7 linked regions of the Homo sapiens genome follow. The protein of the gene in region 7 purifies or fractionates together with the protein of the main gene of each other region. This does not show direct contact. Each region holds a gene or a part of one and is shown on either strand. Other genes may lie near its edges. The genes, in order: ANTXR1, TPCN1, MAN1A2, GTPBP2, CLCN7, CMTM6 and PMEL.

Evidence for each region.
Region 1: the proteins of PMEL (region 7) and ANTXR1 purify together in Homo sapiens (co-immunoprecipitation; 3 studies listed by BioGRID and IntAct, with this or other methods). This does not show direct contact.
Region 2: the proteins of PMEL (region 7) and TPCN1 purify together in Homo sapiens (affinity purification with mass spectrometry; 2 studies listed by BioGRID and IntAct, with this or other methods). This does not show direct contact.
Region 3: the proteins of PMEL (region 7) and MAN1A2 purify together in Homo sapiens (affinity purification with mass spectrometry; 2 studies listed by BioGRID and IntAct, with this or other methods). This does not show direct contact.
Region 4: the proteins of PMEL (region 7) and GTPBP2 purify together in Homo sapiens (affinity purification with mass spectrometry; 2 studies listed by BioGRID and IntAct, with this or other methods). This does not show direct contact.
Region 5: the proteins of PMEL (region 7) and CLCN7 purify together in Homo sapiens (affinity purification with mass spectrometry; 2 studies listed by BioGRID and IntAct, with this or other methods). This does not show direct contact.
Region 6: the proteins of PMEL (region 7) and CMTM6 purify together in Homo sapiens (affinity purification with mass spectrometry; 2 studies listed by BioGRID and IntAct, with this or other methods). This does not show direct contact.

The regions. Positions count from the first base shown.
Region 1 is NC_000002.12:69,177,018-69,180,917, reverse strand, and holds part of ANTXR1 (anthrax toxin receptor 1 isoform 1 precursor), read right to left. Parts: intron 1-3,900. UniProt on the Homo sapiens protein: Plays a role in cell attachment and migration. Interacts with extracellular matrix proteins and with the actin cytoskeleton and thereby plays an important role in normal extracellular matrix (ECM) homeostasis.
Region 2 is NC_000012.12:113,273,244-113,277,143, forward strand, and holds part of TPCN1 (two pore channel protein 1), read left to right. Parts: coding exon 1-47; intron 48-325; coding exon 326-425; intron 426-3,675; coding exon 3,676-3,792; intron 3,793-3,900. UniProt on the Homo sapiens protein: Intracellular channel initially characterized as a non-selective Ca(2+)-permeable channel activated by NAADP (nicotinic acid adenine dinucleotide phosphate), it is also a voltage-gated highly-selective Na(+) channel activated directly by PI(3,5)P2 (phosphatidylinositol 3,5-bisphosphate) that senses pH changes and confers electrical excitability to organelles.
Region 3 is NC_000001.11:117,366,091-117,370,248, forward strand, and holds the start of MAN1A2 (mannosyl-oligosaccharide 1,2-alpha-mannosidase IB), read left to right. Parts: upstream 1-1,358; 5' UTR 1,359-2,093; coding exon 2,094-2,395; intron 2,396-4,158. UniProt on the Homo sapiens protein: Involved in the maturation of Asn-linked oligosaccharides. Progressively trim alpha-1,2-linked mannose residues from Man(9)GlcNAc(2) to produce Man(5)GlcNAc(2).
Region 4 is NC_000006.12:43,626,407-43,630,936, forward strand, and holds the start of GTPBP2 (GTP-binding protein 2), read right to left. Parts: upstream 2,859-4,530; 5' UTR 2,757-2,858; coding exon 2,571-2,756; intron 2,511-2,570; exon of another isoform or gene 2,383-2,510; intron 2,184-2,382; exon of another isoform or gene 2,153-2,183; coding exon of another isoform or gene 2,111-2,152; intron 936-2,110; exon of another isoform or gene 873-935; intron 543-872; coding exon 516-542; intron 5-515; coding exon 1-4. Other genes in the region: MAD2L1BP (MAD2L1-binding protein), read left to right, coding at 3,344-3,363.
Region 5 is NC_000016.10:1,457,884-1,461,783, forward strand, and holds part of CLCN7 (H(+)/Cl(-) exchange transporter 7), read right to left. Parts: intron 3,792-3,900; coding exon 3,720-3,791; intron 3,588-3,719; coding exon 3,522-3,587; intron 3,066-3,521; coding exon 2,933-3,065; intron 2,645-2,932; coding exon 2,535-2,644; intron 1,305-2,534; coding exon 1,224-1,304; intron 1-1,223. UniProt on the Homo sapiens protein: Slowly voltage-gated channel mediating the exchange of chloride ions against protons. Functions as antiporter and contributes to the acidification of the lysosome lumen and may be involved in maintaining lysosomal pH.
Region 6 is NC_000003.12:32,496,161-32,500,060, reverse strand, and holds part of CMTM6 (CKLF-like MARVEL transmembrane domain-containing protein 6), read left to right. Parts: intron 1-3,900. UniProt on the Homo sapiens protein: Master regulator of recycling and plasma membrane expression of PD-L1/CD274, an immune inhibitory ligand critical for immune tolerance to self and antitumor immunity.
Region 7 is NC_000012.12:55,959,143-55,963,042, forward strand, and holds part of PMEL (melanocyte protein PMEL isoform 3 preproprotein), read right to left. Parts: intron 2,591-3,900; coding exon 2,480-2,590; intron 2,322-2,479; coding exon 2,175-2,321; intron 1-2,174. UniProt on the Homo sapiens protein: Forms physiological amyloids that play a central role in melanosome morphogenesis and pigmentation.

The sequences.
Region 1 (3,900 bases), on a different chromosome or scaffold from region 7:
ACTTCCCCCACCCCATCTTCTGATGGATGGATTTTCATATTACTCCTCAGAGAAACCTCCCCTGGAAATTTCTTCTAAAGTAGCCGCGGTCTCTTCATTCCATCAATCTGTTTTATTTTTAGTTAAGGATCTCATCATGGCTTGATATTTACTTAATATCTGTCTCTCCACACTAGAACGTACGTTCCACAGAGGCTTTTGTTTGTCATGCTTACAATTGTATTCCCAGTCTTTAGAATAGCACTATGTTGTATGTGGTGGGTGCCCAAGAATTATCTGTTGAATTTACAAATAAGTTAAATAAGATGACTCAAATAAAGCAGTTAATTAAGTGTCTGCAACTTAGCTCAGTGACAAGAAGTTAGTGTTTATATTTTTTAAGATGAAGAAAGAAGATGAGGAACTTGTAACTGTGGATGGAAAAAGGGAGGAGATGTAGCAACTGCTCTTCATCTTGGCACTGTAATTATTCTTGTTGTGGGGAGAAAAATATCACCATTTATAGTCATGGATGGATTATAAGGAAGTGGCATGATTTCTCTCCTGGGTAGAGAAAGGAAGCTGGAAAAGGGGTTGATAAAGCAGAGGAATGAACAAAAGAGGGAGAAATTGCTCACAATGCTGAAGCCTGCTTCTCACAGCCTTGTTTTGGTGGCATTTGGGTGAAGTCCTATGCAGGGCACCACTGCGTGGGATGGGGCACCCCATGCAGGAGGCAAGGTGCAAAAAAGCAAAGGCAGGAGAGGTCAGGACAAAAGGTGACAAAGCAAAGCAGAAACATGTTGGCACATTAAGACTCCCTGAGTTACATGTTGTGCTTGGGATGGGCAGTCTTCTTTAAAATGATTTTCAAAAAATTTAATACATCTTAAAGGACAGAGAGGTCACAGCAGACTAGGACGTACAACATTCTGACAGCTGACACTTGGGTGTCTCTCTCTCTCTTACTTGGTTGCTCGCTCTCAGATTCTGCTGACCCTTGTATTCTAAGTGCAAAGTAGGTGCTCGATAAACACATATTGCATTCATGATAACACACCATTGAATTTATGCAGCCTTTCCCATGTTATGTGCCAGTCACTCTTTTGAGCACTTTAAATGTATTATTAATCCTTTAATCTTGCAACCACCCAGGAAGGTACATGGTGTTATTATTCCTATTTTAGAGAACGAGAATAGAGACGTTAAATGACTTAGGTCACCCAGCTTGTATGTGACAGAGCTGGATTTGAACTCATGCAACCTCATTCTCCTTTGATTGTTTCTCAGCATTGGCCAGTCTGGATTTTGTTCTTTTGTGGTTTGCTTTTCCAATCATTTGATGGCAACAAATACACGCTCATTTTTGACTTCTCCTTGTACCTGCTAATTTTGATAATTTTTTTTTTTTTTTGGAGACAGGGTCTCACTCTGTCACCCAGGCTGGAGTGCAGCCTCAACTACCACAGCTCAAGCAATTCTCTCACCTCAGCCTGCCTGAGTAGCTGGGACTACAGACACATATCAATGCACCCAGCTAATTTTTCTATTTTTTGTAAAGATGGGGTTTTGCCATATTGCCCAGGCCGGTCACAAACTCCTGGGCTCAAGTGATCCTCTCACCTCAGCCTCCCAATGTGCTGGGATTACAGGTGTGAGCCACCGCACATGGACTTAATTTTGATAATTTATAACTGCAAAATATAACAAAATAAAGTCCCCAACACAATAAAATATTATAGTTCATATTACTTTACCTTAGAATTTCCGAGGTTTCTTTCACCTTATGATGTGAAAGCAGGAATCTTATATGTCCTATATGTGGTTAAACTTTACATTGGAGGTGGATGTATGTTTCTGTGTAAGTGGCTGTGAACACAGATATACAAAATATGGCTCTGAAAGCCTGGGCATTCCCAGTCTGGGGCAGTTTTCCAAAGGAGATAACAGAAATTCTATCCCCTAAAGCTGAACACAGCAGCACCACGAACGTTAAGAAACTCCAAGAATAAAGCCGCTTTATTCCACAGGGGACTCAACTAGGTTCATGAGCCTCTTAATTTTTTAGGAGCTCATCTAATTAAGTCTTTTCACTGCACAGAAGAGGAGTCAGATCTAGAGAAATGAAGTGACCCCTAAAGGTGAAGTTCTGGTGTGGTTTTCTGATGCCTTGTCCAGGGGTTTTTCTCCCCCTATATTTTACGAAAAGAACTTAAAGAAGGATTTACAACTGGCTTTCTCTAATTCGCAACCCCGCTGAGTGCTCAGGATATAGTAAGATGCATGAAGCCGGTTTCCCCGCTTTCCAGGTTCCACTTGCACACGGGGGCAGTTCTCCCTCTAGTCCCTGGCCCCTCCCTCTTGCCCCTGGCCCCTCCCTCTTGCCGCTGGCCCCTCCCTCTAGTCCCTGGCTCCTCCCTCTTGTCCCTGGCCTGGGGAAGGAGGCGCCGCCCTCGTGCTCAAGGGCAGGGCCTGGCCTTCTCGCAACAGGAAATGCCTAGGGCTTGGGCAATCTCCACACGCTGCCGCGCCACCGAGCCCGTCGCTTAATCCCCTGACCGGAGCTGGCCTGCCAAGCTCAGACAACAGCACCAGGCAGCACAAAGGCCCAGGGGCTGACGGACGGGAGAGTCAGAGTTTCCCCTGCAGTTAGCATGGGTCTGTTTACACATTCTGGAGACAGAAGGGTTTTGCAATCCCCAGGAAGAGAAGGGAATCTTTGATGTGTCTTTCCATTTGGCCAAAAATGGACGGAGTAGAATCCCAGCCCCTCAGCAAGGCCACTAAGAAACTCGGCAGCACTGGAGGGTGGATTTTTACATCTCATTAAATCATAAAGGCTCTTGAGATCTTCCTCCTACACTGCCCTTCAAGGATGGTAGCAGGGAGGGAGAAAACACCAGTATAGAAATCCTCAGTGTGAGCTGGCTTTCCTTTAGTAAACAAAACAAAACAAAAACCTTGCTGTCCTCTATGGTTATTGGAGGATGGGGCTGGATGAGCCCAATTGCTGTGAATGAGAAATCAGGGGCTTGTGGGGAATGAGAAGATGAGCAGAACAGAGTGGGGCAGAGCTACCAGTGAACAGCTACGACCCCCAATCCCCCCGAGTGGTGGGGGTGGCCGGTGGTAAATAAGAGTCCCTTTAATATTCCGTCAGGGGTTGTGGGCTGCACTATACTTTTAAACCTTCAGTAAAATTTGCTGCGCAGTTGGATTTGTGCCAGAGCTGCTAGATCGTGTCTAGCAAACCGAGAAGATGAGATAACGCGGAAGAAGCGAGGAGTAGGAGTCAGTGGTGCCTGGGAGAAACCGCAGGGATTGGGGAGGGAGGCCGGTTTCCCATCAAGGGAAGTTGTGTTTAAATCTGAAAGGATGTGGTGGCTCCAGACGTCCAGCTGGCTGGAGCTTGGGTAACACAAATGGCAGCACATTCCTCAGATGGTAGAGGCCCCTTCTGACCTGCGTGTCCTCAGGCAGACCTGGGTGTGCCTGCAGGCACAGTGCTGTTCGAGGAAGAAACAGCTGTAGAGGATGAAGTCTGTGAACTCACTTGGTTAGCCTGTAATTGGATTAGCCCTGTGCTGTCCTCAGACCCTGAACTTTTCCCATCTTTCCCAATCATGCCAGGCTTTTGTGCAGCTCCACGCTTCAACATGCAGGGCTCCACATGCCTGGAAAGCCCTTCTCCCATTGCTTCTACCCATCCCTTAATGTTGTTTAAGCGTAACCTATTCTGCCAAGAACTCCCGGGTTCCCCAGAGAATGCAATGCTCTCGCCTCATGAGTTTCCACAACTCCACCTTCCACTCACTCAACACGTTTAACTGTTAGTTATTAAGCAAACCAGAGGGTAGAAAGGATGAATTTTCCAGATTCTGGGACTGCCTCACTCCTGCATGTATACTGTGCATGGGACAA
Region 2 (3,900 bases), about 57 Mb from region 7:
CTGGAGAACAGCATCGTCAGTCTGTTTGTCCTTCTGACCACAGCCAAGTAAGTGCAGGCTCTGCCTTGCCTTTGGTCCTCTGCTGCCGCCCTGGGGTCTCTTTCTCTTTTCTGCCAAGTATATTCCACATCCCAGCACAGGCAGGTGCTGTGGTGCTATTGGGAGACAGGGTTGGCCCACTGAGCACGGAGCCCAGGGATGAGAGTAGGGGAACCAGGGTTGGAGGCTGGGAAGGCAGACAAGGAGCTGTCCTCTGCAAGGCATGTGCTCTGAGAGGATGGAGACAGGCAGATACAGCACGCCGGGTCACCCTCTGCAAATACAGTTTCCCAGATGTGATGATGCCCTCCTACTCCCGGAACCCCTGGTCCTGCGTCTTCTTCATCGTGTACCTCTCCATCGAGCTGTATTTCATCATGAACCTGGTGAGTGACTATGCCTCAGGCTACGCTGAAGCAGCCTGCCCCTACCCATGCAGCACTAGGCACTGTGGGAGTGGAGAAGTGGGGACTGTCTTCTGCCTCTCAGGGCAGAACGTTGGGGCAGGAAGTCCCAGATTCATAGTCAGGTGCGGTGTTGCAGGGAATGCCCTGTCGGGACTTCAGGAGTTCAGCCAGTTGCTGGGGGTGGCGTCCTCACCAAGGCAATGCTGCTGATGCTGGTAGTGCTGGATGTGAAACCCAGGCAACCCTGGGACCTTTTCATTCTTACATCAGAAATAAGCAGTTGACCCTCGGTGTCCACAGGGATTGTTTGCAGGACCCCCTGTAGGTACAAAGATCCACAGATGTTCAAGTCCCTTATATAAAATGGCAGAGTATTTGCAGATAACCTGTGTACATTCATCCTCTCATATATTTTAAATTATCCTGCATTACCTATAACACCTAATACAATGTAAAAGCTATGTAAATAGTTGTTATACTGGGCTGGACATGGTGGCTCACGCCTGTAATCCCAGCATTTTGGGAGGCCAAGGTGGGTGGATCATTTGAAGTCAGGAGTTCGAGACCAGCCTGGCCAACATGGTGAAACCCTGTCTCTACTTATGAAAATTAGCTGGGCGTGGTGGTGGGTGCCTGTAATCCCATCTACTCAGGAGGCTGAGGCAGAAGAATTGCTTGAACCCAGGAGGTGGAGGTTGCTGTGAGCCGAGATCATGCCGTTGCACTCCAGCCTGGGCAACAGCACGAGACTCTGTATCAAAAAAAAAAAATTGTTATACTATATTGTTTAGGGATAATGACAAGAAAAAGAAGGCTGTACATGTTCAGTACAGATACAACCATCCTTTTCTTTTTGGAATATTTTTGATTTGCGGTTGGTTGAATGCATGGATGGAGAACCCACAGATAAAGAAGGCCAAGTATATTATAATAACCATAAAAGCTGGCATTTAGTAAGCCTTAGCCACTTGGCACTATGCAAAGTGCTTTACATATGAGGATGAAATAATTTAATAAATAAACACAACCGTGGAGGTAGTGAGTATGGTTCTCCATGTGCAGATGAAGAGACTGAGGGTCAGAGTGACAGTGTGATTTGCCCATGGCTACATAGCTTGGAGTGGCCAGGCCAGGCTCATCCCAGAGCCCTGTTCCTAACCACTCTGTTCAGTTGCACTCACGTGCCAGAAATGTCTTGTGTATTTCTACCTCACTTATCAGGAACCATCAGAAAATCCAGTATAGAACACGTTCTGTGAAGGAGAACGTAAAGCCTCTGTGCTCAAAGAACTTTGAGGGTGTTTGTGGAGGTGTGGACAGCCTCCAGGAGTGTCCCAGCCATCACAGATCACATCCGACACCAGGCTGTTAGGCCGGTGCCCAGACCACACATCCATGGCAGAGCTAACGGGGAGAGGCTTCCGATCGAGTCCTGTGTTTATTTTTATGCTTCTGCAGAGCATTCTCACACCAGTCACCACAGTCAGGCCCAGTATAGAAATGAAAATCATCTTTTCCAGGTAGACTTGTGAAATCTAAAAAATTTTAAGTCCTTTTCTCTTTTTTGAGATGGAGTCTCGCTCTGTCACCCAGGCTGGAGTGCAGTGGCGCAATCTCAGCTCACTGCAACCGCCGCCTCCCAGGTTCAAGCGATTCTCCTGCCTCAGCCTCCCAAGTAGCTGGGACTACAGGCACATGCACATGCCGCCACACCCGACTAATTTTTGTATTTTTGGTAGAGACAGGGTTTTGCCATGTTGGTCAGGCTGGTCTCGAACTCCTGACCTCAGGTGATCCGTCCGACTCAGCCTCCCAAAGTGCTGGGATTACAGGTGTGAGCCACAGTGCCTGGCCAAAATTTAAGTCTTAAAAAGGAGAAAATATTTCCTTTTTTTTTTTTTGAGACAGAGACTTGCTCTGTTGCCCAGGCTGTAGTGCAGTGGCGCGATCTCGGCTCACTACAACCTCCGCCTCCTGGATTCACACCATTCTCCTGCCTCAGCCTCCCGAGTAGCTGGGACTACAGGCACCCGCCACCACGCCCGGCTAATTTTTTTTGTAGTTTTAGTAGAGATGGGGTTTCGCGCTTTGTTAGCCAGGATGGTCTCAATCTCCTGACCTTGTGATCCACCCGCCTCGGCCTCCCAAAGTGCTGGGATTACAGGCCACCGTGCCCGGCCTGAGAAAATATTTTCTTGTTTTAATTCCTCAAAACCAAGAAGAAATATGTTGAGTACTTCTTTGTATTTGATTTAATTCATAATATATTTAGAGCTGTGAAAATTTAGGGCAGCAGTCAACAAAGTACGACCTGCTGGCCAAATTTGGCCCATGGCCTGTGTTTGTAAATAAAGTTTCATTGGGACAGAGTCATGCCCATTTGTTCATGTATAGTCTGTGGCTGATCTCATGATATGACCACAGGTTAGTAGTCGCAGCAGAGATCATTTGGCCTTCACAGCCTAAAACAGTTGCTGTCGAACCCTTTACAGAAAAAGCATGCTGACCTTTGATCCACAGGGAAAAAATGGGGGACCAGTTTGAGGGAAAGGACCAGAGAGTTTCCCTTAAAACATTTTTAAAGACAGAGAAAGTGTTTCTAAAAAGGATTCTTTCAAGTTCTTCCCCGGCCTTCCATCCCCCTCTGATAAGCTAACTTTTGGTATTAGCCAACTCTAGAACGTTATTTCCTTGCATGCAGAGCCTCTCACTCCCCTTTTTCCTGGGCCACACGTGAAGCAGTGACTCACAAGGAGAAGTAACAAAGGGGCAGGGGGAGGAAGGGTCCTTCTGGATCGGAGGTCAGGAGGGCAGTGGGCAGGCAGCCTCCGCCTGCCACTGGCTGGAGTCGGACTGGGCTCAGAATCCAGATGCGCCCCTCTTGCTACTCTCTCCTCCCCTGGCTTGCCCCTGCGCAGCCTGGGACAAGCTGTAGCTGGAACTGGGGAAAGGAGTGTGGGAAAGTGGAGGGGAACCTGGGAAAGATGGAGTAACAATGCCTTCATGTATCTGAAGAGGGAAATTTACAAGCGGAACAAAGGGCCTTCCTCTGTTGAGACTTGGGAGACTGACTTCCTACCCCATGAGGTGCAGGCGAGAGGGTCTCCCCAGGGCCTCTCTGGGGTGACTGGGTAAGAGCCTTGCCTAGATGATGAACTCATACCCCCCTGCACTCCCTGCCCTAACCACTCAAGGTCCTGAGCTAGGGCTCTGTGCTTCTCTCCCACAGCTTCTGGCTGTGGTGTTCGACACCTTCAATGACATTGAGAAACGCAAGTTCAAGTCTTTGCTACTGCACAAGCGAACCGCTATCCAGCATGCCTACCGCCTGCTCATCAGCCAGAGGGTAGGAACTATGGGCCAGGGAGGGGCTTGGTCCCTGTCCTCCCTCCCTTGCCCAGAGCAGCCCCTAAGCATGGCCAGGCCAGCCACTTTAGAAACCAGGAACCCTGCC
Region 3 (4,158 bases), on a different chromosome or scaffold from region 7:
ATACTACGGAGAACAGAATTGATTCAGATTGTTTTTAAGCCTGAACGTAAACAATATTGTCGCCTTTTTGGGTTTCAGCACCTCCTTATTCATCCATTTTCTCTTTTATGGGAAGGGGGTTGATGAGGTGTGTGAAGATGATAGAACGTGCCCCAGAAACTGAACAATGAAGAGACGCCTGTCATATCGGGGGTACCTAGATTCCTCTGAAAGGAAGCCCAGCTGAAGGAGCAGGGTCACCACTTTATTTTAAAAACGTAACATGGCACATGTTGGTGCTCTATTAATCGAGCCTCGGGGGCCCAATAACGTGAGCATGGGCTGCTGCGTGGAAGTTTGAGACCCTGTTGCTGAATCCTCGGGCCTGACGGTCTATCGCTGAAGACAAGACTTCCAAAGAATCACAGTAAACGTTAACCTAAGCCATCAGAAGCCATTAACTCCGGTGACACTACATTTCAGCGAAACCTTCGCGACCCAACCCCTCGCTCCCTCTCGCCCAAACGCTGGGTCAACCCCACGAACTGGCGGTGGCAAGGCCCTGGGCACCGGTGAAGTTCTCGTGGCAGCGCAGATCGGCGACCTTCTCTTCTTTCGCGCTCAGACGGCGGCGGCAGCAGTACGCTTTCGGGCTGCTGGAGCCGGCAGCGGCGCGAGGCCGGAGCCCGGGCAGCCAGGCTGGGTGGGGGAGGGGCGGCGGCAGCGGAGCCGGGAGCGTGCGCGCGCACCTCACACTCCGCCGCCCGGGGACGCCCACTCGCGAGCCGGGGCCGGTAGGCCGGCCCGGGTCCCATCGCCCCCGCCCTCCGGTTCCTCTCCGGCGTGAGCCCAACGGGTGTCGGCCCAGCAGCTGCTGCGCTCACCAGGCCTGGGGAGGCAGGGTACGGGGACCGGGCCGCAGCCCCGAGCGGCGTGGGCGCGCTGCCTCTCTGGCAGCCGCCGCCAGAGCCAGCAGCTGCGAGCCACCGGAGGCGGCGCGGAGGAGGCCCCCGCGGCCGGGCAGGAAGGAGACGCGGCCGACCTCTGCCCGCCCGAGGCGCGGCTGCTCCCGCGCGCCCAGGCCCTCCCGCCGCTCCAGGGCTGAGTGAGGAATGAGCCGGCGCCTACCCCGGGCTCTCGGAGCGTGGGCCCCGGCTCGGCTTCTTAGGCGCGAGGGCTCGGCCACTGCGGCCGGCGGCCTAGCTCGGGGAGCAGGCGCCGGGGTTCACTGAACCGGCCGCGGAGAGGAGGAGGAGGAGGAGGAAGAGGAGGAGGAGGAGGAGGAGGAGCTCGGCGGGGGCGGCCGCCGCGCCTCCCCTCCCCCAGGACACGCCGGGGCTTCTCAGTGGCCGCCGGAGGAGGAAGTTCCGCTCCCTGACAGACCCGTGCGGTAGCAACAGCGGCGGCGGCCGCGGCGGCTGGCCGGACTCAGGTGTTTCGGACGCTATTGCCCTTCGCGCCAGCCGTCGAGTGGGCAGCAGCGGGACTCAGCCGGGCGCCAGGTTCCTGCCAGGCAGCGCCGGGAAGCGCGGGCGGCCGAGAACTCCTTCCTGCTACTTCGCCCAGCGCCGCTGCTTCGGCTTCCCAGCGAAGTGGGAGACCTTCCTCCCTGTTTGCAGACGTCCGTGGGAGACCCTTATTTTTTCCACCGCTAAGGTTAAGAGATTCTGGAATAGAAGCGTCGAAGGAGATCAAGTGAACCTTCTACAACTCCTCGGATGTCGCCAGTCTCCCTTTCGGGGCGGAAGACTACGTTTGAGCATCTCACTGAGGTGCAGGAATGGAAGAACCCACCTTGCAGCTTTTCTGCAGTGTGGCTTGCCTGATCTACCCCTAGGAATGAAGAGGAGGCTTGTAATAATCCGATGAAGTACAGATGTTGAAGAGGATATCGCAGGACCTAAACTTGTGATCGTTTGGGGGAGGTCACACACGTTTCTGAGTGGGAATGGATGGGCGTGAATGACGTGCCCTCTTAAAAAGCACAACAGTCCTTTAAGAGGAGCAAAATTGAGTTTTCCCATTTTGGCCAAGATTTTGAAGACAGTTCAATGTATTCTACATTTGACATAAGATGAGAACTTTCTAAAGTATTCTCTCCAAGAGCGTAAACGATGACTACCCCAGCCCTGCTGCCCCTCTCTGGACGTAGGATACCACCTCTGAACCTGGGGCCGCCTTCCTTCCCACATCACAGGGCTACCTTGAGACTTTCTGAGAAGTTTATTCTTCTCCTTATTCTTAGTGCCTTCATCACTCTGTGTTTTGGGGCATTCTTTTTCCTTCCAGACTCTTCAAAACACAAACGCTTTGATTTGGGTTTAGAAGATGTGTTAATTCCACATGTAGATGCCGGTAAAGGGGCTAAAAACCCCGGAGTCTTCCTGATCCATGGACCCGATGAACATAGACACAGGTTTGTTTATTTCAGAAGTTCTGGTACTAACATTTGGCAGAGCAAGGTACGGTGATTGGATCGAATCTGTCTTTTTTTTTTCTTGCAGTAAAATGTAATTTTTCGAGTCATAAATATTGTATTGTTACTTCAAGACTGGCTGAATAAAACCATAGACTGGAGGGACTCTACCTCCAGTCTATGGTAGAGTCCATAGACTGGTAGGACTGGAGTCCTACCTAAGTCGTTCTTCTCTTCGGTTTTATATAAGAAAAACATTTGCGTTCAGAGTTGTGTCTAATGTGGACATCTGGGAAGGGAGGTATGAAAACTTAACCTAAAGAAATGGTGACATAAGCTGTGCCTGCATTTATTAATAACGTGTTGGAGTCAGTCATTGTGCCACCATGTGAAATCAAAGCATCGAACCTTGACAGCTCTTTTGGGTGTGCTCTCCCAGAGGGCTCTCGTTTTCTGGCTTGTAGTTGAAGCTTAGTAGTGAGTCAGCTTTTTAGGATGACAAACGTGGGCAGAATATACCTGTCATTTCTTAACGTGAAAATATCCTGATTTTTGTTCTTTTTTTGGGGATGTGTGTTGGTGCTGTATATGAAATCAGTTAAGTTAAAAGGTATTGAATCCTAAGTTATTGCACTTTGTGAGGCTTGTAGACAAGATTTATTTTTGTGAAACTTAATTTTGCTCTCTCTTTTAATGTAATAGATGGACTGTGTCAAGCAACTATTGGAATTTGGTTGATTAAGGGGTTCACATTCTTTCAGATCACTAAATCTAAAGTGAGCTCTGGGGAGAGCATAGCCAAACTAGGATAAAATGGGAGCTCTAGTTACAATTTTTATAATTTTTATATTTGTACTCAAGAGTTTGGGAAAGTAGTTGACTTTTCTTAAACCTGCCATCTTTTCCTTGTTTCTTAAAATAATTCTTGAGTATGTGGGAAAAAAAATCATGTGCTTGAATTCATTTCCCATCTGATGATAGTTTTAACTTTTTGTCAAGCACCGAAAAAGCTTAGGTTCACGTGTAAGCCTACATTAAATATTTGGGAAAATGCACTGTTTTATGAGAACTGGTTTTTCTTTTTTTCTCAACCTAGTTAATTCATTACTTGTGTGATGGTTCTTTGACTTTTGGATGAATTTTATGGAGTAGTTACTTCTAATATTGTTTCATGCCATTCTTTTGTAACTAAGTTAATTTGGAATTTTTGCCATTTTCGACTACTGTACTCCTGTATTTGTTTCTTTAATTTTGCACTTTGCTTGTTGTGACTTTAAGAAAACACTAATATGATCTGTGAAATATGTTACTGAAAAATTAACGGTGAAAGTAGTTTTCCTTGAAAATCTTATTTCGCATGGTATTTGTATAACATATGAAATATATTGAAAAAATGTGTTAAGGCTGTTTTTAGAGCTGTTTCACAACAGCCACACATTAACATTACTTAGCTCTATTATTAATAGTATCTGTCATGTACTAAGCAGTTTAAAAAATACATTTTGAATGGTCTAAAAGTTTAAAATAATATGACCACATTTTAGTTTAAAAACATTTACACAAAAATTCTCAGTAAATGGAGTTAAAATATGAAATTTGAATGAAAATACAGATATGTGCCTTTTATTCACATTTTTAACAGTCTGTATAAATAGTTTAAACAAGAATTCTTAAATTTATGAAGCCCTTGGATATATATGCATATGTATTTAGCTATCTAAAACTATTGGGTTCCTGAGTTTGGAATGAGAGATTGGTTATTG
Region 4 (4,530 bases), on a different chromosome or scaffold from region 7:
TCAACTTAGGGCAAGTGGGGTATCATAAGGTGAAATCAGAGGTGTTCCTCCCAAACCTACATGGTCCCCACCTGTTCTGCTGCAAGGACCAGGACTTTCTCTTTCCACTTAAACTCATACCTGATCCCCCTCCAACAGAACGAGGTACAGAGCCCTTAACCTGAACCATATCCTTAAACTGCTATAATTATGAAGTTGGAAGGCTCTCAGAGAACTTATCCCATGCTGGTGGATCACCAGAGGTCAGCAGTTCGAGACCAGCCTGACCAACATGGAGAAACCTCATCTCTACTAAAAATACAAAATTAGCCAGGCATGGTGGCGCATGCCTGTAATCCCAGCTACTTGGGAGGCTGAGGCAGGAGAATCTGAGATTGCGCCACTGCACTCCAGCCTAGGCAACAAGAGCAAAACTTCATCTCAAAAAAAAAAAAGAAAGAAAGAAAAAAGAAATTATCCCACACTGGCAAGGACAACCTACCCCAGCCCCTGCTTTTCCCCAGCCTAGGACTCACTTTATATTCAATGTTTCCATCTTCAGCCTGAAAAGAAACAGTGAGCAGTTACCATACACTGTACAGACCCAATCCCTACTTCCCCTCAATTCCCACTGGGTCCAGGTAGCTAACTTGAGAAAGCAGGAAGCCCCACTGGCACTTGGTTAGGCAAGTGCCTGTCAAAGGTCAGTGGCAGACAAGATCCTCTATTCACCCCCAGCATAGCCTCTATGAAGGGAAGGCCTATAAGGACACAAGGAGTCACCCATTTAAGCCAGGAACAGAACACTGAATCAATCCATTCTTTGATCACTGGCAGCACGTTCTTCCTAGATGCAAGATCATCCCTTCCTCCCCACCTCCAGGGCCTCAAACCTGCTTTTCCCAGAAGTCTATGTCTCCTCTGTGCCCAGGCTGTTAAAACCTTTCTTTGTCACTGGTCTAGGAAACACCATTTCCTCCCTGCCTGCCCCTTTCAGCTGATGTCATCTAGAGTAAGAGGCTGCAAGAGGTTCTGGATCAGAGCCAAAGGGTGAGCTCAGCAATGGTCACTACAAGCCTGATGACCGAGAAGATCTAGGTGAGAGAGGAGAAGAGCTCCAAAGCTGGGGCTGAGAGGAACAGAAAAACTCAGAAAATGTAATGAAGCGGACAGACTCGCTATGGCCTTTACCTCTTGCCCCCTAACCTCAGTGGAGGTGAAATCCTGAATCCACCCCACAGTCTCTTCTAGCTCCAGTGGGTAGCACAGCACAGAAGCACCCTGTTACCTGAGGCTTCCCCTCCCAGGTACAAAGGGATATGGGATTTGCCTGTTTGGCCAGTCTGCATTTTTCTACCCGCCTCTCTGGATATTTTAGTTTTCCTCTTCCCTTCCTATCATTCCATCCCTTCAAGGCTGTCTGGCTCCCAGGCCCTAACAGGTCTTCACTCATAATCTCCACTTCATGGTGTGTTAAGGAGATTATTTTTTTTCCCCATCAATAAAAACCTTTTAATCATTTTTCTGGGGATGGGTGGCTTCAAAAAATGTGGTACAAGAATGACAGTCTAGGGCCCAGACCAATGGTTCCCAAAGTGAGGTCCTGGGACCAGCAGCATTAGTATCACACGGGAACTTATAAGAAATGCAAATTCTCAGGCCCATCCTCACTAGTAAGAAAGAATCAGAAATTCTAGGCTGGGCACGGAGGCTCACGCCTGCAATCCCAGCACTTTGGGAGGCCGAGGCGGGTGGATCACCTGAGGTCAGGAGTTTGAGACCAGCCTGGCCAACATGGTGAAACCCCATCTCTACTAAAAATACAAAAATTATCTGGGCGTGGTGGCGGGCACCTGTAATGCCAGCTACTCGGGAGGCTGCAGCAGAAGAATCGCTTGAGAACCCGGGAGGCCGAGGTTGCAGTGAGCTGAGATAGCCCTACAGCACTCCAGCCTGGGTAACAGAGACTCCGTCTCAAAAAAAATAAATAAATAAATAATAAAAAAATAAAATTGGCCAGGCGTTGGGGGCCAGCAATCCGGGTGATTCGATACATGCCAAAGTTTGATAACCACTGGCTTAGGCTGTGTGTGTGTGTGTGTGTGTGTGTGTGTGTGTGTAGTGAACATACTGCTCTTTTCCCGAGTACTGTGTGTGTGTCCGTGTGGAACATATTGCTCTTTTCCCGGGTACTCCCCTTCTCCCTGTGGAACAAGTTTAGAAGAAGTGGTGGTTACTGTCTGCCTCTCGTCCCAGGATGCAGTCTCTCTTGCCCTATGGCGGCACACGCAGTTGGTCGGGGTGCTCTTCCTGGGATCCCCTTTCTCTACTTCTCTCCTGGGGTAATCTAGATCAGAAGGGGGAGTCCTCCCTCTCCACTCTTCCTCCCTGAGGTCCTGTCACCTGAGAGTCCAGTCTCTGCCCTTCCTCCCTGGGGTCCCGGGACCTGAAAGAGGTGTTCTCCTCCCGTGCCCCTCCTCCCTGGGGTCTCGACACCGGAAGGGGAGATTAATTATCTGGGTCCCGCCTCCCTAGAGTCCTGGGCCGGAAAGAGTGGCTTCTTCCCGCCCTACCACTTCTCAGGTGCTCACCTCGGGGGGCAAATACGGGGGGTTGTTGGCTTTGCCCCCTCTGTTCCTTCCGTTCTTCTTCTTTCCCTTTGGCCCCCCGCAGCCGCTGCTGCTGCCGGCCCCCCTAGCCTTGAGGGTTCCGCCCACGGCCGGGCCCCCTCCGGGCCGGCAGCAGCCGCCGAACAGCTCCGATACCCGCGAGTCCATCCGCCGCTGCCGCCAGCCCCCCGCCCGGCCCCTCCCCCGACCGCCGCCGCCGTCGCCGCCGCCCTTACTGCCACTGCCGTGTCCGGCCGGCCTGAGCAGAGTGGGGTGGGGCTCTGCACAAGCTACGCCCCCCACCTCCCTGGCCTCCGGGTCGCGTCAGAAACAGCCGCGGGGCACCACGGGATATAGAGTCCCCAGGCCTGGGAATTCACTTAAATGACACGTCGCCGCCCTACAACTCCCAGGAGGCATCGCGGCGCAAGTGGCCGCGGGAGTCGTCGGAGGCGTGGGGAAGGAGCGCGCCTTGGCGCGCAAAGGCTTAAGGGAGCTGTAGTCTGACTTCCAGTCCTCGCGCTATGTTCTTTTTCTAGGACTTGGGGGGAATTTAGAGCCTCGAGGCCTGGGGTGGGGACGCGAGGACACCAGCGTAGAAGAGCTTACATCAGAATCGAGCTTTGTGGGCGCTCCGGGATTTGGCCCTTTAGCGCGGATCCTAGACAACAGGTTTTGGACCTCGAGAGCTGCAGAACTGAGGCTACTGGTGCCGCCAGCCTGCTGGCTCCGCCTCTGCCTCAGTTTCTTCCCCTATGGCCCGCGTGCCGCTGGGGTGAGTCAGGGCGAACGCCAGGGCGGAGGCGGATGGTGATTAGCCAAATTACGGCTGTTATTGTTGGGATGATTATGCTACCTTTACATAGTAGTCACTGCTTTATTACCAGGCTGGCACCGTCCAGGGGCTGGTTTTAATAACCGGAGGCACCGCGGTGGCCCCGACACGAGACCCGAACCCGTAAACCAGCTTCCTCCCCGAAGGCTGCAAGCATACCCAAAGCGAGTATTCCTCCTCCCCTTTGTTTTGAAGCAGAACCAATCGGGAAGAACTGAGTTTGGTTTTAAACGGCCAAGACTGTAGGAGGGGCCTGGCCCCTACTTCGGGCGGGGCTAGGGCTCGGGTTACACCAACCACCACGAGGGCGGGGCAGTGGCCGGGAATAGAAACTTGGCCTAGGGCCACAGGGGATTTTTGGCTTTTGACTCTCTTGTGAAGCAATCTCCAGCTCTTTAGTGCTGTTGCACTCTACAGAGTACATACATTCAGCGACATAAGCCAGTGCACAGAACACAGAAAGGCAGGGTGGAAAAGCAGTTATGTTGCTGAGCTGCGAGTCAGGACGCTAGGGCTCAATTCACAGCCGCATGGCTGTCTCATGACTCAGACCACTCACAGTGTGTCCACTTCTCCCCTCTTCTCGAACTGCGAGGTGCTCATACACGGTCAAGAAATTAAACAACTCAGCCGGGTGCGGTGCCTCACGCCTGTAAATCACAGCACTTTGGGAGGCCAAGGAGTGTGCGGATCACCTGAAGTCAGGTGTTCGAGACCAGCCTGGCCAACACAGCGAAACCCCGTCTCTACTAAAAATACAAAAATTAGCTGGGCGTGGTGGCGCATGCCTGTAATCCCGGCTGCTCGCGAGGCTGAGGCAGGAGAATCGCTTGAACCCGGGAGGCGGAGGTTGCAGTGACCCGAGATCACGCCATTGCACTCCAGCCTGGGCAACAGAGCGAGACTCCAACTAAAAAAAAAAAAAAAAAATTAGCCCAGCATGATGGTGCACATCTGTGGTCCCAGCTGCTCGGGAGACTGAGGCAGGAGAATCGCTTGAACTCGGGAGGTAGAGGTTATAGTGAACTGAGATCATGCCACTGCACTCCAGCCTGGGTGACAGAACGAGACTTCGTCTCAAAAAAAAAAAAAAAAAAAAAAAGAAAG
Region 5 (3,900 bases), on a different chromosome or scaffold from region 7:
CCAGCACCCCCAGGCTGGGTCTCCCCATGGCCACAGTGGAGCTAAACAGCAGCCAAGCGTCCCCCGCACTCACTCGGGGGACCTGCCCTCTGTGGCCTCAGCACTGAGCAGGCAAGGGGTTCTTTCGTTTCCTTCCTTCCTGAGGCAAAGCTGGGCCGCCCACCGCATCCTACAGGCACACCTGCCTCCGCCAGCGTGGCCAGCACAGGGGAGGTGTTCCCGCTAGCCCCGCCTAGCAAGGCTCCTCATACACCCCTGGCACTGGAAGGCTGGTCACCTGCGGCTCCACGATGCCCCCTCTCCCTTCGGCTGCTCCCCGCCCCCAGGGGCCTCATCCTCTCCACCTGAGAAGGTGTGTAAGGTGTTTATCAGCCTCCCTGCCCCAGGGCAGAACCCACAAGGGCGCAGACCCTAAACACAAGGGCGCTGAGTGTGTGGGGGAGGACTGTATGTTAAAGATGCCGAGCAAACTCAACCCTCAGCCAACAAAAGTTATAGAGCAACATCCAAGAAGGTTCAGGCCAGCCTGGCGCGGGTGACAGGCGGGTCGCCATTCCCAGCTGCTCCAGTAAACCTGATCTCCCACCACAGGGCAGGGGCACCCCAAGGTCACCTGGGAGCTTTCGCCAGAGGGGACACACTGGTCCCGCTCCTTGGCCACGGGGACCAGGCCCCGGAAGCACCCCCAGGGGGCAGCGGCCATGCTGCCCACCCATCCTCAGACGGGACGGGGCTGCGGCAAGTCTCAGGCTAAGGAACGATGGCGGCACAGACAGAAGCAACCACAGCGGAACTGGGTCAGGACTCCCAGCACCTCCAGAACCAGATGCTCTGATAACACCAAGTGTAAATGACCATGAGGCAAACTGAAAGCGGGAAACTGCTACACGCCCACTACCACGACAGCTTCCACGGTGAATCAGTCACCACCACGCAGCCCACAGTCACAGACGCGTCGCACAGCTGTGTCACACATGCACCACGCAAGCATTTCTGTATGACTACTCATTTCTTACGTAATTTAATATGTGCAAATACCAGTTGTTACCACTTTCAGAAAAAAAGGTGACCCCTTCACACCCAGCCAGCCCATCTGCACACAGTGCCACCAGTACACAGGGTGGCTGAGGCCAGTTCTGGAAGGCAGGCAGCCAAGAGAGCTGCTCCTGAACCAGCAAAGAGCGGGCGCCCACCCTGCCCAGCCAGGGCCACCGCACCCTCACCTTGAGCCGCACCACGTGGGGGATCTTCACCCCGTTGAGGAAGCACTTGATCTGGGGGATTCCGCTGCCAGCAGCCACCGGCTGAAAGAGGGGAAGCACGGCTGAGTGGGTCACGGCCAGGCTGAGACAGATGCAGCCCCTCAGCCCCAGGAGCCCCAGGAGCTGAGGAGAGCAGCAGACACGTCGGGGCCTCAGGGAAGGGGAGCTCAGCACACAAACGTCGGGGCCCCAGGGAAGGGAAGAGCAGCACACACGTCAGGGCCCCAGGGAAGGGGAGAGCAGCGCACACGTCGGGGCCCCAGGGAAGGGGAGCTCAGCACACACGTCGGGGCATCAGGGAAGGGGAGAGCAGCACACGCGTCGGGGCCTCAGGGAAGGGGAGAGCAGCACACATGTCGGGGCCTCAGGGAAGGGGAGCTCAGCACACACTTCGGGGCCCCAGGGAAGGGGAGAGCAGCACACATGTCGGGGCCTCAGGGAAGGGGAGCTCAGCACACACTTCGGGGCCCCAGGGAAGGGGAGCTCAGCACACACTTCGGGGCCCCAGGGAAGGGGAGAGCGGCACACACGTCGGGGCCTCAGGGAAGGGGAGCTCAGCACACATGTCGGGGCCTCAGGGAAGGGGAGCTCAGCACACACTTCGGGGCCCCAGGGAAGGGGAGCTCAGCACACACTTCGGGGCCCCAGGGAAGGGGAGAGCGGCACACACGTCGGGGCCTCAGGGAAGGGGAGCTCAGCACACACGTCGGGGCCCCAGGGAAGGGGAGCTCAGCACACATGTCGGGGCCTCAGGGAAGGGGAGAGCAGCACACACGTCGGGGCCTCAGGGAAGGGGAGAGCAGCACACACTTCGGGGCCCCAGGGAAGGGGAGCTCAGCACACACGTCGGGGCCTCAGGGAAGGGAAGAGCAGCACACACGTTGGGGCCCCAGGGAAGGGTCTCATGTCGTTGGGGTAGCTGCTCTCACTCTTCCCAGCCCAGACACAGATCAAGGACGTGGTGGAGGCGGAGGTGGAGATGGAAGGAGGGGAGGGCAGAGTGAGGAGATGGAAGGAGGGGCGGAGTGGGGTGAGGGTGCCCAGGCCTGTGCTGGTAGGTCAGGAGCAGCACCCCAGGGCTCTGGGGGTGAAGAGGCCCTGGTGTGTCTGCTCCTCCTGAGGTTGTGAGTCTGGACCACGTGATTCTAAAAGTGCCCGGGTTGTCAGCCAATGTGATGGTGGGGGTGGGTGAGCTGCAGGGGTTCCCGCCCATTCACCAAGACCCCCAATCCTTCATGGGGTCCGCCATAGCTGCGGCATCCTGCCACCCACCTCTATGAAAGCCACAATCACAGAGCCCACGAGCACGAAGGCGGCGTTCAGCGTGGCCCACAGCAACAGGGAGAAGGACAGTCCGCCCTTCTCTGTGAACTTGTCGATATCTGGGGCTCATCAAGGAGGGCTGGCTGCTTCCCCGTCATGACCACCCAGCCCAGACCTCAGCCCTGCCCCACAGACCAGCCTGGCAGATGCCACCCTGCTGGGTGGAGCCATGATGTTCACTGGACATCCCAGAGACGTCTCACGGCCCAACCATGACAGGGACACAGCCAGCCTGGCCGGGCCGCCTCCACCTGCACTGGAACACGCTGGGCTCAGGACTTCTGCCCGGGACTCGGCCCAGGCCACGCCCCCCTCCCAAGCTGCAGCGGCCGCACTGGGAAGGATACTGCCCTTGATGACCCTGTACTTGAGGCCAGCCAGGTTTTCCACCACGATGTCAATGAAGCAGGCCACGAGGCCCGTGAGGATCCCAATGAGGGCGCAGATGACCCAGCGCTTGATCTCCACCGTCCGGAAGGCCTGCAGGGCGCGGTCAGGGCGAGGGTCAGGCAGGGCCCTGGCGCAGTCACTCTGGCAGCAGCAGGACCGCCCAGACCGCCTGCAGGCCCCGGGATTATGAAGGGCCCAGTGTGCACGGTGCGCTGAGTCCCACAAAGGACAGTTTCTGGCCAACATCTGAGGCGCACCCGGGGCCCGAGGGTGACTCGGGGAGGTGGGTGAATTCCCAACAACTTCACAGCCAGCGGTTGTTATGCTGGGCACCGCATCTGGCGGCCGTAAGAGCAGCCTTCTTGGTTACGGTGACCGTGACCCTCCCACTGTCTCTAGAAACCAGACGAACCACAGGCCTCAGAGGCGGAGTCAGAGGAGGAGGGAGGAGGTGCGTCACCTCACCCCGGCAGAAGAGCAGCCCCAGGCCCGGCCGGCACCAGGCCCCGCACCGTGGGGCCCTGCAGGGAGCGGCGTCCAGCTCACCGTGTGATTGATCCGCCGCTCCTCCTCCAGGAACAGCTGGTTCTCACTGTTGTCATAGTCCAAGCTCTGCAGGCCGGGACAGCAAGGGCAGCACTCAGCACCGAACCCACGCTCTGGGTGCGGGCACAGGGGACCGGGAGTGGGCTGGCAGGGGGCAGAGGCCGGGTCTCAGGGTCAGGGGGACAGAAGGACGCCCACCTCATACTTGAGGGACAGGAGCTTCTCGTTGTGTGGGATCTCCTTGGGGAAGGGATGTGGAGGGTCCATATCCTGTGGCAGAAAAAGGCAAAGAGAGAAGCACAGTTGACAAGGCCACAAGGAGAGAGGCCCCTCTCAGCTCACACACGAGGCCATTATCATCCCGACACCAAGGACAAGG
Region 6 (3,900 bases), on a different chromosome or scaffold from region 7:
TTAACAGAATCTCAAAGATCCTACAAGAGAAAAGCCTGCTCTAAAACTTAAAAACCAGACATTGTGTATATACTTAGGAAATTCTTACATTAGAGTCTTCGGAGGTTGAATTGAATTACCTCTGAGGTTCTTTGCACTCTTAAGGTTTTTTTTTTTTTTTCAAACCTCTGAGGCTCCATGGGGTTTGCTATTACAGAACTGAATTGAATATTGAAGGGATAGAGAGTGGAGCCTGTACACAGAGGAGATTAGAGATAAAAGAACGTAACTTCTCTATCTCTTGAAGTTAACATAGCTGTGTCTGCCATTTAGATATGACCTAAGTTTTGTTAAAACCCTAAGCATCCCCCAACTACCATCCACCCTTCCAGAGCTTAAGAAGAAATACTCAGTTGAGAATTTAGTGTAAGGAGTTACTGGAGTCCTAACTTTATGCAGTTTTTCAGTTTATACTATCCTTAGATTTGTCCACATGTTCATGTTTTATTTTGTGAATGTTTTTGAGGGAGTTTTTGTTTTAAGGGGAGAATTGACGTTTGGTAACCTAATTGCTTGCTGATACGCTGGTGCAGTGACCTAAATATGTGGAATTTTCTGTGCAACAAGCTCCACATTGTATCCATGCTGTCAGTTGACTATCCTGATAGCTGCACAGTACTGGAATTCTAGTCGCTCATCTGGCAAGCAGTTTTAGAAATCGCCAGTGATTTTTCAATATATTACATTATAAATAATGTTACCCTATAAGTACCAAGAAACAGATTACTTGGAAGCATTTCTTATATTGATGCTCTTTTCATTATTTAAATATGAAAACTGATGTATAGTAAATTGAAATGTTCTATTTTTACCTTGAGGAAGATCCCGTAATGTCAGCAAATTATATCTGAACCTTTGTAAGAGTAAATATTTGCCTAAGGCAAGGGAGGCCTGGCCTGTTTCTTCAGACCAATGGATTTTTAAATTTGAACTTTACTTATAACTACAAAGTTTTTAATAGTAAAGTTCATTAATTTATAATTCATATCATTTTGTAGATGGAGCTTTATAATTAATGGCAAACATTTAAAAGTTCTTTTTATAAAATATAAGTAGTAGACTGTTAAATTAATGGAGAATTCGTATTTAATATAGTGACCGTTTTAAGGAACACTTGAAATTTCAGAAAAGGTAGTGAAACTGAGGCCGGGTGCGGTGGCTCATGCCTGTAATCCCAGCACTTTGGGAGGCCGAGGTGAGCGGATCACAAGGTCAGGAGATAGAGACCATCCTGGCCAACATGGTGAAACCCCGTCTCTACTAAAAATACAAAAATTAGCTGGGTATTGTGGCGTGCACCTGTAATCCCAGCTACTCAGGAGGCTGAGGCAGGAGGTGGAGATTGCAGTGAGCCAAGATCGTGCCACTGCACTCCAGCCTGGCAACAGAGCGAGACTCCATCTCAGAAAAAAAAAAAAAAAAAAGAAGGGGTAGTGAAACTGAAATGGAGAGATAGAGGCAGGATAGTAATTATCCAGTGTTTAAATCACCAGAACTGTAAGATCATGTTTTAGTCACTGAGACTTCCCAAATCTGTTGATGTTAGCAAATTGTTTTTAATGTATGATTTAATACATTAAAGGAAATATACAGAACTGTGGGTTTAACTTCAAAAAGCCAGTCTTACAGGGAAGACCTACACAAACATACATACTCGTAAAAGGAATTTAACAAACAGTATTTCATGGGGAGAGAGGAAGTACAGAGTGGGAGTCAGAGACTTGGGTTCTTGTCTGTGCCGAGCTAACTTGGGGCTTAACCTGTCAGTAGCTTAATTCCATCTTTGTAAACGTGGGAGTGGGAGACTATATCCGCTAAGGGCCCTCCTGACATTAAAAGCTTGATAATTCTCTTAATTATATTTGGGTAAAATTTTATGTCATTAGAAGGAGTTACATTGGGTATACAGTTGTTAAGTACTTAGCTTAATATTCAGTAAGCAATATTTAGTATGATGACTTCATGCTATTAAGAACAAAACTGTTTACCAAAAAATAATAATTGAGCCTTTTTACTTATGGGTTATGTTTACCATGAATTTCTTAGCTAATTCAGTGACATTTTTTCTCTCTTCCTATTTTTGACCACTTTGGCATTTAATGCTGGTGACCACTCATTTCTCGAAATTGTTCCTTCAGCTTTTACACTTTTTTTTTTTTTTTTTGAGACGAAGCCTCGCTCTGTCACCCAAGCTGGAGTGCAGTGGTGCAGTCTCGGCTCATTGCAACCTCTGCCTCCCAGGTTCAAGCAATTCTCCTGCCTCAGCCTCCTGAGTAGCTGGGACTACAGGCGTGCACCACCATGCCCGGCTAATTTTTGTATTTTTGATAGAGACGGGGTTTCATTATGTTGGCCAGGCTGGTCTCAAATTCCTGACCTCGTGATCCACCCGCCTTGGCCTCCCAAAGTGCTGGGATTACAGGCGTGAGCCACCGCGCCCGGCCAACTTTTACACTTTTTTCTTTTTAATACAAGAAAGTGTCTGCTTACCAAAAAAAAAAAAATCAACTAAAAATATTAAAATAAAACCACTTTCCCACCCCTCACACTACCAGGTGTCACGGTATGAGTAACAGTTTGGAGTATGTTTACTTGCTGCTTTTTAAGGAGTTTTTTCTTTCTTTTTTTTTTTTTTTTTTGAGACAGAGTCTCGCTGTTGCCCAGGCTGGAGTGCAGTGGTGCGATCTCGGCTCACTGAAAGCTCTGCCTCCTGGGTTTACGCCATTCTCCTGCCTCAGCCTCCCGAGTAGCTGGGACTACAGGCGCCCGCCACCACGCCCGGCTAATTTTTTTTGTATTTTTAGTAGAGACGGGGTTTCACCATGTTAGCCAGGATGGTCTTGATCTCCTGACCTCGTGATCCGCCCACCTCGGCCTCCCAGAGTGCTGGGATTACAGGCGTGAGCCACCGCGCCCGGTGTAGGAGTTTTCTTTTTTTAAAAACACTTCCTGTGGCTTGCTGATAAGAAGTTAGTTGCTCTTTTCCCTCCTACACTCGGAACTGTAGAATTCCTTTAGGCCCCACCCAATCCTCTGTTCCTCCTGTTTTCTAACCTACTAAACCAGACAGGTGTTCCCTCCTGCCTTCATCTAAACATCCATATTCCCTTGCATGATCATCACACAACCACACCCAACTCCTAAACCATTTTTTTCTTCATCCCCATCCAGTTAGGTCAGTTGCCTTATTATCATTTTTGGATTTACTATGCAAATTCTTGCCCTTATGAATATGTTCTTTTTCATCCTCCACCTAGAATTAGAATGTCCTCTGTCTATCCAGGTTCTGTTTGTGTCTCTGCCTGGTTTGAGTCCTGCTTTTCCACTCATCCTTCTCCGGCTCCTTCGAACATTTTCTTGAGATTTTCTAACCTACATATAATGAATGCTCAGTTAATGTGGTATAAAATATATTGTTATTATTGTTTCTTGTACATTGAGCTTATTACTCCATCATTTGTATCTTCCTATACGTAGAACAGTGTTGGAGTGTTGCTAGTTCAAGTACACTTTGAGCTAGCAATTGCATAATGCTGTGGGAGCTTACAAAGGTTAGTAGCCTCAGAGATGGGTAGGCAGAGAATTTTTTTTCTTTTTTTTTTGGTAGAGATGGGGTTTCACCATGTTGCCCAGGCTGGTCTCAAACTCCTGAGTCCAAGCAATCCTCCCGCCTTGGCTTCCTAAAGTGCTGGGATTACAGATGTGAGCCATCGCATCTGGCCGACAGAATTTCATATTGACTATAGCTTGTAGTGCCAATTTGTTGGCCTTTAACTTGAGATGGGAGCTAGTAAATGTCCACACTTTTTTTTTTTTTTTTTTTGAGATAGTCTCGCTTTGTCACCCAGGCTGGAGTGTAGT
Region 7 (3,900 bases):
GCTGAGGTGGGAGGACTGCTTGAGGCATGGAATTCAAGACCAGCCTGATCAACATAGCAAGACCCTGTCTCTACAAAATACATTTAAAAAAAATTAGCCAGGTGTGGTGGTATGCACCTGTAGTTCCAGCTACTCCAGGGGCTGAGGAAGGAGGATCACTTGAGCCCAGGAGGTTGAGGCTGCAATTAGCTATGATCACACCACTGTACTCCAGCCTGGGAGAGAGAGAAGGACCCCGACTTTAAAATAAATAAATAAATAAATAAATAAAATAAGAAAAATAAAAGAAAAAGAAGATATATGTATATATATATAGCCACATATCAAAATATTTAGAGTGATTTGCTCTAGCTAGTGGAATAAAAATAACAGCACTAGGGGGCCAGGCGCAGTGGCTCACACCTGTAATCCTAGCACTTTGGGAGTCTGAAGCGGTTAAATCACCTGAGGTCAGGAGTTCAAGACCAGCCTGGCCAACATGGTAAAACCCTGTCTCTACTAAAAATACAAAAATTAGCCAGGCGTGCTGGCGGAAGCCTATAATCCCAGCTACCCAGGAGGCTGAGGCAGGAGAATCGCTGGAACCTGGGAGGTGGAGGCTGCAGTGAGCCAAGATCGCACCACTGCACTCCAGCCTGAGCGACACAGCGAGACTCTGTCTCAAAAATAAATACATAAATAAATAACAGCACTAGATAGCATTTATTTAGCCTTTACTGTAGGCTAGAGCAGACACTACATTAAGTACTTTACACATATTATCACATTCTAATCCTTACAACAATCCTTTTATCTTCGGAAATGGAAACACAGTGAGGTGGGCAGATCACTTGATCTCAGGAGTTTGAGTCATCCTGGATAACATGGTGAAACCCCGTCTCTACTAAAAATACAAAAGAATTAGCCGGGCATGGTGACATGCGCCTGTATCAGCTACTCGGGAGGCTACTCCCAGCTACTCAGGAGGCTGAGGCGGAAGGATCACTTGAACCCAGGAGGCAGAGGTTGCAGTGAGCTGAGATCCTGCCACTGCACTCCAGCCTGAGCGACACAGCCAGACTCTGTCTCAAAAAAAAAAAAAAAGAAAAGAAAAGAAAAGAAAAGAAAAAAAAAGAAATGGAAACACAAAACAAGTAACTTGCCCAAGGTCACATATCAAGGACAAGTTTAAATATAGGTCTGTTCAACTTCTAGGTCCCCTGAATTCTGCTGTCCTCCACTTTAGGGACTGTAATTTTCTTTTTTCTTTTTGAGACAGGGTCTCACTCTGTCACCCAGGCTGAAGTACAGTGGCGTGATCATGCAGTCTCGACCTCCCAGGCTCATGATCCTCCCACCTGAGACTGCTAAGTAGCAGGGACTACAACTGTAATTTTCTTTTCTTTTTGCTTTCTGTTTTTTTTTTTTTTTTTTTTTTTGAAATGGAGTCTCGCTCTGTCGCCCAGGCTGGAGTGCAGTGGCATGATCTCGGTTCACTGCAAGCTCCACCTCCTGGGTTCACGCCATTCTCCTGTCTCAGCCTCCCAAGTAGCTGGGACTACATGCGCCTGCCACCACGCCCGGCTAATTTTTTGTATTTTTTTTTTAGTAGAGACAGGGTTTCACCGTGTTAGCCAGGATGGTCTGGATCTCCTGACCTCGTGATCCGCCCGCCTCGGCCTCCCGAAGTGCTGCGATTACAGGCGTGAGCCACCGCGCCCGGCCTTCTCTGTGTTTTTAAATTTTAACTACAATGAGTATGTATTACACATATAACTTGTTTTAAAAATTAAAGGAGGAGGCCGGGTGCGATGGCTCACGCCTGTAATCCCAGAACTTTGGGAGGCCGAGGCGGGCGGATCACAAGGTCAGGAGATGGAGACTATACTGGCTAACACGGTGAAACCCTGTCTCTACTAAAAATACAAAAAAAATTAGCCGGTCATGGTGGCAGGCGCCTGTAGTCCCAGCTACTCGGGAGGCTGAGGCAGGAGAATGGCGTGAACCCGGGAGGCAGAGCTTGCAGTGAGCCGAGATTGCGCCACTGCACTCCAGCCTGGGCGACAGAGCGAGACTCCGTCTCAAAAAAGAAAAAAAAAAAAAAGTAGAGAAGGAAGGGGCATTCCCTGAGCTCACTGGGCATACCAGGGAACCTGAGCCCTAGGAATAAGGACCTAGAATAGAGAAGTACTCACCATTGATGATGGTATTGTTGACCCAGATAACCTGCCCATCTGGCAATACCTTTTGGCTTCCAGGGAAGTTCAAGGCAATAGAGAAGGAGGCATTTGCACCAATCAGTGTAGGCCCATCATTACTGACCTTGAGGGACACTTGACCACCTGGGAAGGAAAGCTACATTAGCTGGGACTCCTGGGCTTCCCCTCCCTGTATACGTTTCCCCTCCTTTTCTTCCCAAGCTACACTCGATGCAGTTCAGCTTGCTTTTTTCCTCATCCCACTCCCACCATGCCCTCCCCTGGAACTTCCAAGTTCCTACCTCTCCAGCAGTCAAGTCTCTGGGCTTCTGTCCACTCTGGATACAGCTGCCTGTTCCAGGCTTTGGTTCTGAGTTGCCTTGAGACACCAAGCCAGTCCTGGTTTCTGGGTACTAAAAGGAATGTGCCATGAAGGGCCCTAGGATCCTTTCAGTTCCTTCTCAGGGATAACACTCTATTCATGTCACTCCATTCATTCTCACATTCGAAGTGCATTTTTTTTTTTTTTTTTTTGAGATGGAGTTTCGCTCTTGTTGCCCAGGCTGGAGTGCAATGGCATGATCTCGGCTCATTGCAACCTCTGTCTCCTGGGTTCAAGCGATTCTCCTGCCTCAGCCTCCTGAGTAGCTGGGATTACAGGCATGTGCCACCATGCCAGGCTAATTTTGTATTTTTAGTAGAGATGGGGTTTCTCCATGTTGGTTGGTCTGGTCTCGAACTCCCGACCTTAGGTGATCTGCCTGCTTTGGCCTCCCAAAGTGCTGGGATTACAGGCGTGAGCCACTGCGCCCGGCTGAAGTGCATTTTTAAAACTCATTTATTTGGCCGGGTGTGGTGGCTCACACCTGTAATCCCAGTACTTTGGGAGGCTGAGGCGGGTGGATCATGAGGTCAAGAGATAGAGACCATCCTGGCCAACATGGGGAAACCCTGTCTCTACTAAAAATACAAAATTAGCCGGGCATGGTGGTGCGCACCTGTAGTTCCAGCTACTTGGGAGGCTGAGGCAGGAGAATTGCTTGAACCCGGGAGGCAGAGGTTGCAGTGAGCTGAGATTCTGAGATTGCACCAGTGTACTCCAGCTGGCGATAGAGTAAGACTCCATCTCAAAAAAAAAAAAAAAAAAAAAAACACAAAAAACCCCTTATTTATTTGTTTATTTATTTATTATTACTCTTTTTTTTTTTTTTTTTTTTTTTTTGAGATGGAGTCTCGCTCTGCCCCCTAGGCTGGAATGCAGTGGCGTGATCTTGGCTCACTATAGCCTCCGCTTCCTGGATTCAAGCAATTCTCGTTCCTCAGCCTCCCAAGTAGCTGGGACTACAGGCACCCACCACCACACCCAACTAATTTTTGTATTTTTAGTTTCGCCATGTTTCATGGTTTCTCCATGTTGGCCAGGTTTGTCTCAAACTCCTGACCTCAAGTGATCCAACCGCTTCGGCCTCCCAAAGTGCTGGGATTATAGGCGTGAGCCACTGCGCCTCGCCTGTTTTGTTTTAAATCAAGACATAATTCACATACCATAAAATTTACTTTTAGCCAGGCATGGTGGCTCACATCTGTAATCCCAGCACTTTGAGAGGCCGAGGCAGGTGGATCACAAGGTCAGGAGTTCGAGACCAGCCTGGCCAAGTGAAACCCTGTCTCTACTAAAAATACAAAAATTAGCCGGGCGTGGTAGTGGGCACCTGTAGTTCCA